Homo sapiens: one gene and its partner. The protein of the gene in region 1 interacts with the protein of each later gene in a pairwise test. Each region holds a gene or a part of one and is shown in the gene's direction. Other genes may lie near its edges.

What was found.
Region 2: the proteins of AKAP7 (region 1) and C8orf34 interact in a two-hybrid assay, tested with the Homo sapiens proteins (one large-scale study listed by BioGRID).

The regions. Positions count from the first base shown.
Region 1 is NC_000006.12:131,281,240-131,284,341, forward strand, and holds the end of AKAP7 (A-kinase anchoring protein 7), read left to right. Parts: intron 1-290; coding exon 291-487; 3' UTR 488-1,159; coding exon of another isoform or gene 1,160-1,365; 3' UTR 1,366-1,945; coding exon of another isoform or gene 1,946-1,989; 3' UTR 1,990-2,293; downstream 2,294-3,102. UniProt on the Homo sapiens protein: Probably targets cAMP-dependent protein kinase (PKA) to the cellular membrane or cytoskeletal structures.
Region 2 is NC_000008.11:68,329,218-68,333,813, forward strand, and holds the start of C8orf34 (uncharacterized protein C8orf34), read left to right. Parts: upstream 1-1,737; 5' UTR 1,738-1,795; coding exon 1,796-2,122; exon of another isoform or gene 2,123-2,274; intron 2,275-4,596.

The DNA.
Region 1 (3,102 bases):
CTTGGATGAGAGAAGAACAGAAATTCACATATAAATGGGAAACATCCGGCATTGGTAGGTAGAGCTTGTCTAGATTGGGACTAATGAACTACTTTTCAATCTGAAGCCTTCAGGAATAGACAGGCTCCTGCTTCTGCAAATACCAAATGAAAAGCCAACCCACTGTTCTTGAATTTATAGATCCAATTTACACTTGCTCTTTTTAACCAATGGAACTAGCCGGCCCCTGCATGCCAAGTTTCTATGGCAATGTGATCTCAGTGACCTCTCTTCTCTATTGTGGAATGTAGGTGAAAAGAACGGAGGGGAGCCCGATGACGCTGAACTAGTAAGGCTCAGTAAGAGGCTGGTGGAGAACGCGGTGCTCAAGGCTGTCCAGCAGTATCTGGAGGAAACACAGAATAAAAACAAGCCGGGGGAGGGGAGCTCTGTGAAAACCGAAGCAGCTGATCAGAATGGCAATGACAATGAGAACAACAGGAAATGAGCCCGGAACGCAGGCCCCCATGTCTCTGTGCAAAGCCTCCCTGCTTCCCTCTGCTGAGTCTAGGGACTGACTTGCAGCGTGCTGTTTAAGTTAAGTTTCTCTGGTGCAATCTGTGAAGATTGCCTAATACTTTTCATGATCGATGTGTTCGCATTGCTGAAACACAACAGAAGAAAAATGGAGTGCTGGGACTGGCAGAGGAAATTAATTGATGAAAGAAGAATGGCCCAAGTTTCATTCGCCCTCAGCCACGCACAAGGGAAAGGGAACTTTGGGTTATGCCTCCTGGACGCAAATTAAAGGCCGAGAAAGAGGCCTTGCCATCAATGGAATACTGCCATTTATATTGCTTAGCAGGGCATTTGACTACTTTATCTGAGGCCAGAACTCTCACACACAGCTATCAAGTGCTAAGTTTAAAATAATCACTGTTGGAATTGTCATCTGTACAATTAGTCCATAATGTTTCATGTTTGTCCTAAGTGTGCTGTTGCTATGCAGTGTGATCTTTATTTATAGTAAATTATGTTTCATGTAAATGATATATTTTTGGTGAAATGCAACCTTTTCTATAAAATGTGGGCAACATTTTAAAGTTTTTTTAAAATCCTATTTTGATAAGTCAGTATGCCATATTTAATGAAATGTTATTATATAATTTTTTTTTCTTAGGCAAGAAACCTATTGGAATTCGAGACTTAATTAATGAAGCTTTGCATCGAGAAACGATGGGTCTGAAGTCCAAAGTGAAACAGATAAAGGAACTTTTATTAAAGCCTGAGACTCAGGCCAGAATTAGGAGGGAGCTTTTTGAAGGAAGACTTATTAACAACAGTAATTCAGCAAATGACGTTGATTTCAGCACAACTTTGACATAAGCTCTACATTGCGATTGTGACAACATAGCTTATGAAATCTTTTCAGCTTATTAAGTAGCTCTTTGGTAAACACCAAAGAAGTTTCTGATAGTGTCTGCACAACAGCAAACCAACATTTGGTGAGGAATTAGCAATTTCTTGCCAAAGAAAATTGATTCTGCCCAATTATTTTTTGAGCTACACTTGTGTTTTAGAATATCTGTTTCTGTAATATTGAGAGTTATTTTATAGAAATGATTTCTTAATTAGCTGTTGTGAGATATTTCTCGGGTCCTTGCAGAAAAAAACATACAGACTGTGAACAAATCATTCACAAACAGAATAAAACAGAGCCAACAACAGTATTTTAAGGGTCACTTGCCTCCTGTTGACACAATTGTTGCTAAATCAAAAGAAGCGTTGTCCAGGTGTGTCTACATCTAGTGTTACTTTTAATGAGAATTTGAATGTTTATTGAACAATAGTACTTGAATGAACATTTATAAATGTAATTATTGCGATCACTGGTTAAGAATGTTTTATATATCCTTATAATATTTTTCACTGATCAAAATGTTGTTCTGCTTTTTCATTTCTTAAGGAATACATGTTTGGGATTTTTATTTTTTACGTGTCCGAAGATAAGCTCCAGGTCTTATCGTATCCCTTGCCATCTGAACTTGTTTGCACTGCTTCTGTTTGAAAGAGCATCTTGAAAAACTTCCCCGGTATGATGATTGTTGGTAACAACTTTTTCTATAGTCATTGATGGAGTAGATCATGATGGAGGGGAAATCACTGGAGATCAAATATGTAAAATCATTTCAAATATAAAATCCAGTTTACTCATGGATTTTAGCTATTTTTTCACTGGGTAAATTATACTACATTTATTTACAAATGAGTTTATGCATTTTCATGGCTCTTAATAAACATATTGTTTTCCCTTGTTGCTTTTCCTCATTTCTTTTTTTCACTCTTGAGAGTAGTTGGATCTATGTTGGCGTAACGAAGTCATAAATCGGAGCTCCAATAGTTTAGTTTCAGTGTTGCTTCACCTTTATGATCCCGTCCTTCATGCTAAGAGAGCACAGTTGTCAAAGCACCTTCAACTTTACCCTTTAAAATCATATCAAATCAGTCAGCTTCACAGAGAATTAACAACAGAACCTTAAATTCAAAGAAAATCTAAATAGCGTCTTATAAACAGCTAAGAATGTGTCACTGATGTGACATCCTAGCAAAGATGAAAAGTGGAGGTCCATCCAGGTGCAGAATCCTGGGAGCTGTTTGCCATGAAACCCTTTTCAGTGGTAGAGGGCTTGACTGTTTGTTTGTAAATGGCTTCTTTAAGTAAATCCTTAAGGTAGAAAGCAAAGATAGTTTTGGCCTTGCCTTGTTTTTCAAACAAGGAAACAGACTCCAAAAGGTGGCATGCCTTATCCAGGGCCCCACTGCTATCAGGGAACTGGACTTGAACTGTCACCTGGGGCTCTATGTCAATGCCCCGGTGTTATCCTTACCACCCCATAATCTAAGTGAACAGTATTTCTGGAGAGAAGGCACTTCTCAGCGTGTATATACAGATATCCTCTGGGAGCGATTCCCAGTCCATCTAGATAATTTGAAAGGCTAAAATAGTATATACTTTTTGCAATCTGGGGTTACATGTCTTACTGTTATTTTAGTTTAAAATCATGATTTTTGTTAAATACTAAGTCCCAGGTTGTGTGCCAGGTGATTTAGGCGTATGATTAA
Region 2 (4,596 bases), on another chromosome or scaffold:
CATAATTGGGATTACAGACGTGAGCCTTTGTACTTGGCTTCATTCTCTCTTTAAAACATACACATTTTGCCAGCTGAAGCTTTGTCTCTTCTATTCAAAGCCCTAAGTGCAATAGTCTGAGCATGGTGAAGACTTAATAAGTGTCTTTATTTCATTTAAAGAAGCATCCTCCTGATGCCTCTTAAAAGAGAAAGACTCTTGATTTCAGGAAGCGTACCATCTTGGTACCTTATGTGGTATCAAAAATAGTAGGCTTTTTAGCTGGGTCATAGATGGCCTTCCTTATGGCTCTACGCTATACCTTTTAGCAAATAGAAATGTTGGTATTCACTCTGTGTATTTAATTTCTCCTGGACACATTAAAAAATACATAAGTAAATATACCTTCGAACCAAAATGGAAAGCACGAGGCAACCCTGGACACCTCACTGCTATTTAACTTAACCCTCCCTAGGCAGATCATATGAGTCCGATTGTAAAAGTATTAATGTGGACATCTTTCCACTCTGGATCAAGTCCATTTCAGGTTATCAGGGATGGTTAAGCTCCTAGCTATTCTAGCAGATTTCTTATGTCTTAATGCATGAAATTAATAATAGTTCCTGGGATATTCCACACTTATCTATTACATGTTTCCACATATTTAAAATACAGAAGGAAAACATGAACACCAATAAAGAAACTATGAGTAACAGAAATCCAGAACACAGTGAAGAAAGAAAGAAAAAAATATATACTGCTGCAGTCAGCTTTTAGGAAAACTGTTTCCATCATTCTGAAAATTTATATTTATTAGAAATAAATCTAATTTTGGCAGCACATCATGGTTAGGAGCCAGGGAAATTGTCATTGGGACCTTAGTATTGTATTTCACAAGAAAGAGAGCTCTGTGAGGAAGCCTGGGCTATCTGCAAACCTTCGACTCGGAAATCCCTGCATAATAAGAAAGGTATTGGCTAAATTTGAGCAGCTCACGCAGTATCTAGAGGAAACATTATGAAGTGGGATAGTGTGGTGTCTGAGATGCAGTTATAGGTATACAGACATGACTCAAGGCGTGGATTAGGAAGGCCAACTTTGGAGGGGAGGGCTGGCTCGCTCATTTCTCTTCTCCCTGTCAAATGCTGAAAGGCTGGTTCCAGCCTTTGAGCTCCTGCACTTTGAGAGTTTTCAGCTGGGTTCTCAGGCTGCGTTCACCCGTCGACTTGCTCCAGGCCAAACCAGATTTTGAAAAGGAAGGCAACTTCTTTTTCGCGGCAAACCCTTAAACCCACGCACCTTCTCAAAACTCTGCCCTTCTCAACCCCTGCGCTAGAGTAGGCAGGGCAGAAGGTGCTGAGGAGAGGCTCAGAAGGGGCGGTGGGGACGATCCCCTTTCGAACTGCATTTGTAGCTGCCAAGGAGTAGCCAACAAGCACCAGATTTATGTGCACTTTGAAAGAAGCACCTTCACCATTGGCTTTTTAAGCGGCGCTGTCGCTAGGGAGCGGCTGGTAGGGCGAGCAGCCTCGGGGAGCAGCCCGGGCTGTTTGTTCCGTCACCGGGGAAAGGAGGTACACACAGTCGCGCGCGCACGGACACACACACACACGCACGCACGCACACACACCGGTGGCGAGTTCGAGCCCCGCGGCCCCTGTCCGCCCGCGTGCGCCCCTCGACACAGCTCGCCTCCCGCCCCCTGATTCCTGCTGCTGCCGCCCAGAGGAGAAAGGAACCTCTGCCTCGAATTTCCCCACTGCGCCGGGCGCTGCGGAGAGCGGCGAGGGTGGGCGCGAGGCGGAGAACGCGATGAATGAGTTCTCCCCTCGCCTCGGAGTTGTCTGAGTTGGCGGCGCTGCGCCCAGGCTTCCGGCTCTCAGCGCCCCACGCGCGCGTGGCTCCCCGGGCTGCCACCCACGCCCGCGGCCGGGGCCGAGCCAGCCACGCAGGGCAGCCGAGGCTCCGGAGCTCCTGTCCCGGCCCCAGTCCGGGTAAAAGGAGGGTTGTCCCCAGCGGAGGCGCACAGCCGCGCGTTCTCCCTGCACTCTCTTCGCGGTCCCATCTGTTCCCCATGGCGTCTCATCCGCAAACCCGGATCCAGGCTTACCTGGAGAAGAACAAGATCGGTCCCCTGTTTGAGGTAAGGCGCTGTGGAGGAGGGCAGTCCCGTTGTCTTTAGGGGAAGGGGTGCAGTAATGAAAACAGAACACTCCCAATCCCACCCCTCCCAGGGAAGGAGGGCTAGAGAACCAACGCGCGGGAGAGGGCGCCCTGGGATTCACTGGCATTCGCTCTGTCCCGGCCAGGTGTCCTGGAACGCGGCCGGGCGGGCACTTAGCCAGTTACCTGAACGCGGACAGGTGAGCTCGGGAGGGCCCAGCCTCAGCCTGGCAGGGGAAGTTTTGGCCCTCTGACTGTCCTGCACCTCTCAGCTACATGTTCAGGACCCGGGCAGGCTGAGGCAGGCGACGCATACGGATGCACACACTCAGACTGTGTTGCACACGCACACTTTCTTTTTTGAATTCACGCTATCTTGAGTGTTCGTGTTGGATTTTCTTTTTTCTTTTCTTTTCTTTCCTTCTTTTTTTTTTTTTTTTTTTTTTTTTTTTTAATGAGGGCGGTAATAGAACCCGAAAAGGTGGAGGAGGTGCTTAGCAGTTAATACAATTAACTGGAAGACAGCTGAACTGGTGAGGAGTAGGCTTCAGTCGGTGCGGGCGTGATGAATGAAATTGGCAAACTGAGAGACTGCCATTTGGTCACTGGACGAAAGGAGAGTCCTTTGCACTGCAGACCCCACATGTGTTAGCAGGAGAAAGGGACGGAGAAAGGTTCTGAAAAGCACACACGTATTTGTGGAAGAAGACTATAGCTCTGAGCTGGTTTTGTTTTTTTTTCTCTCTCTCGCCATTAAAGAATTTAAGACAAAAATACAGTAGAAGGAAGAGCGCGAGGACACGAGAAAATGAGAACAAGAGATTGAAGCCTGGCACCAGCAAAGCGTCCCGCGGGTTGCCAGGGTGCTGAGCAGGGGTGGGGCGTGCGGACCGTAGTCAGAAGTGGAGGCCCTTGCGGAGGGACTCCCTTGGTCCCATCCAGTTCAGGGGGCACTGACCGGCGGCGAGAGTTCGCGGGAGGGTCGAGGTGCTCCCGCCTTGCCCCCGCCTTGCCCCCGCCTTGCCCCCGCCCCCCACGTCTCCCAGAAGCAGTTGTAGCTGTTCTTAACAGCTTGGTTTGGGGTGAGGGCTTGGTATGGGGAGGAGGTTACGTGTCAGTGTCTGAGAGAGGCAGAATCGCGGCAAGTGGAAGGGGCTGCACTGGAGATCGCGGAAAACCTAGCAAAGACTGAAGAGAAGCAAGTGAGAACTGTGGAGAACAAAAAAATAATGCGAGTTAATGACCCTGCAAAAAAAGGGCGCGGAGGACAAAGGTGTGGTCCAATAGGTCTTTTGGGAGGACGGGTTTCACATAACAAGATTTGCAAGATCTCCTAAGTTTTTTTGCCCAACTTTAACGTTGATCTGTCTTAGACGATAAGACCATTGTTTCAATTGAAGCTCGCATTGTGGGGTGCAGAGTCCTACAATTGCTTTGATTCTTTTTTCTGCCAAAAATGTTAACAAAGGCAATCCATGCAAGAGCGAAATAAAATTGATGGAACTACCAGATTTCTTTTCTTTGCCTTTAGTTTAATGATTATTGATTATACATAATCCTATATAATTTTTTTAAAGGCAGAAGCCTAAAACCTTCTGCAACGCAGTGTATTAATTGCATCGAAAGAATCATAAAATACATACATTTAGAGTGTGTGTTTTCTCTCTACTCTCCTGGAGTATAAAGTACAATTAGCCTGGGAGAATAAATGAATTGTTTTTAATAAATACTGTTTTAATTTGTTATCTTAAAATCCCCAAGATTTTAATAATAATAAAATTAGGAATATATGTAAACTTTCTGCAGAATTAGAAAATAAACTCAAATGGATATTTATGAAGTGCCCCCTAACCCCCACCTTTTGATGCTCACCAGCAAGTTATGCGCTGAAGAATTTTAAGTGATAGCAACGTGTCTCATAAAAGCTTTAGGTCCCCTCACCAAAAAACAAGCACCACCATGCTTCGTATTTTATTGAATACATATGACATACACTGGCATTAGCTTAGATTGCAGTGATGAGTAGTGCATTTTTTAAGGTTTGATGTCCACTTTAAATAATTGAAGGGAGAAAAATGGATAATAAATTCTCTTTTAATAAAAGCTGGATGTAACACAGTTCCTTATGCAACAATTTTGATCATGATAGAGCTTGACTTTGAGAGTACAATTATACGTATTTCACAAAATTGGAAGATTTTACTAGCGTGTAGCCTACTTGTTTCATGTTAGAAAACCAGTGCCACCTGTGAAATGGACATTGTTGACCTAGAGACCGTCCATTCTCTTCTAGGACCTTACTCAATAGTTTTCACAGGAATTGATTTGGGTCAGAGGAGGTGCCCAGCAATCTGAACATATTTAGAAGCAGCACAAATGTTTGCTACAATTTTAATTTCTGGGCCACATTTTGAGAAACTGAGCTAAAATCTCCTTTTACCACTCACAAATTGA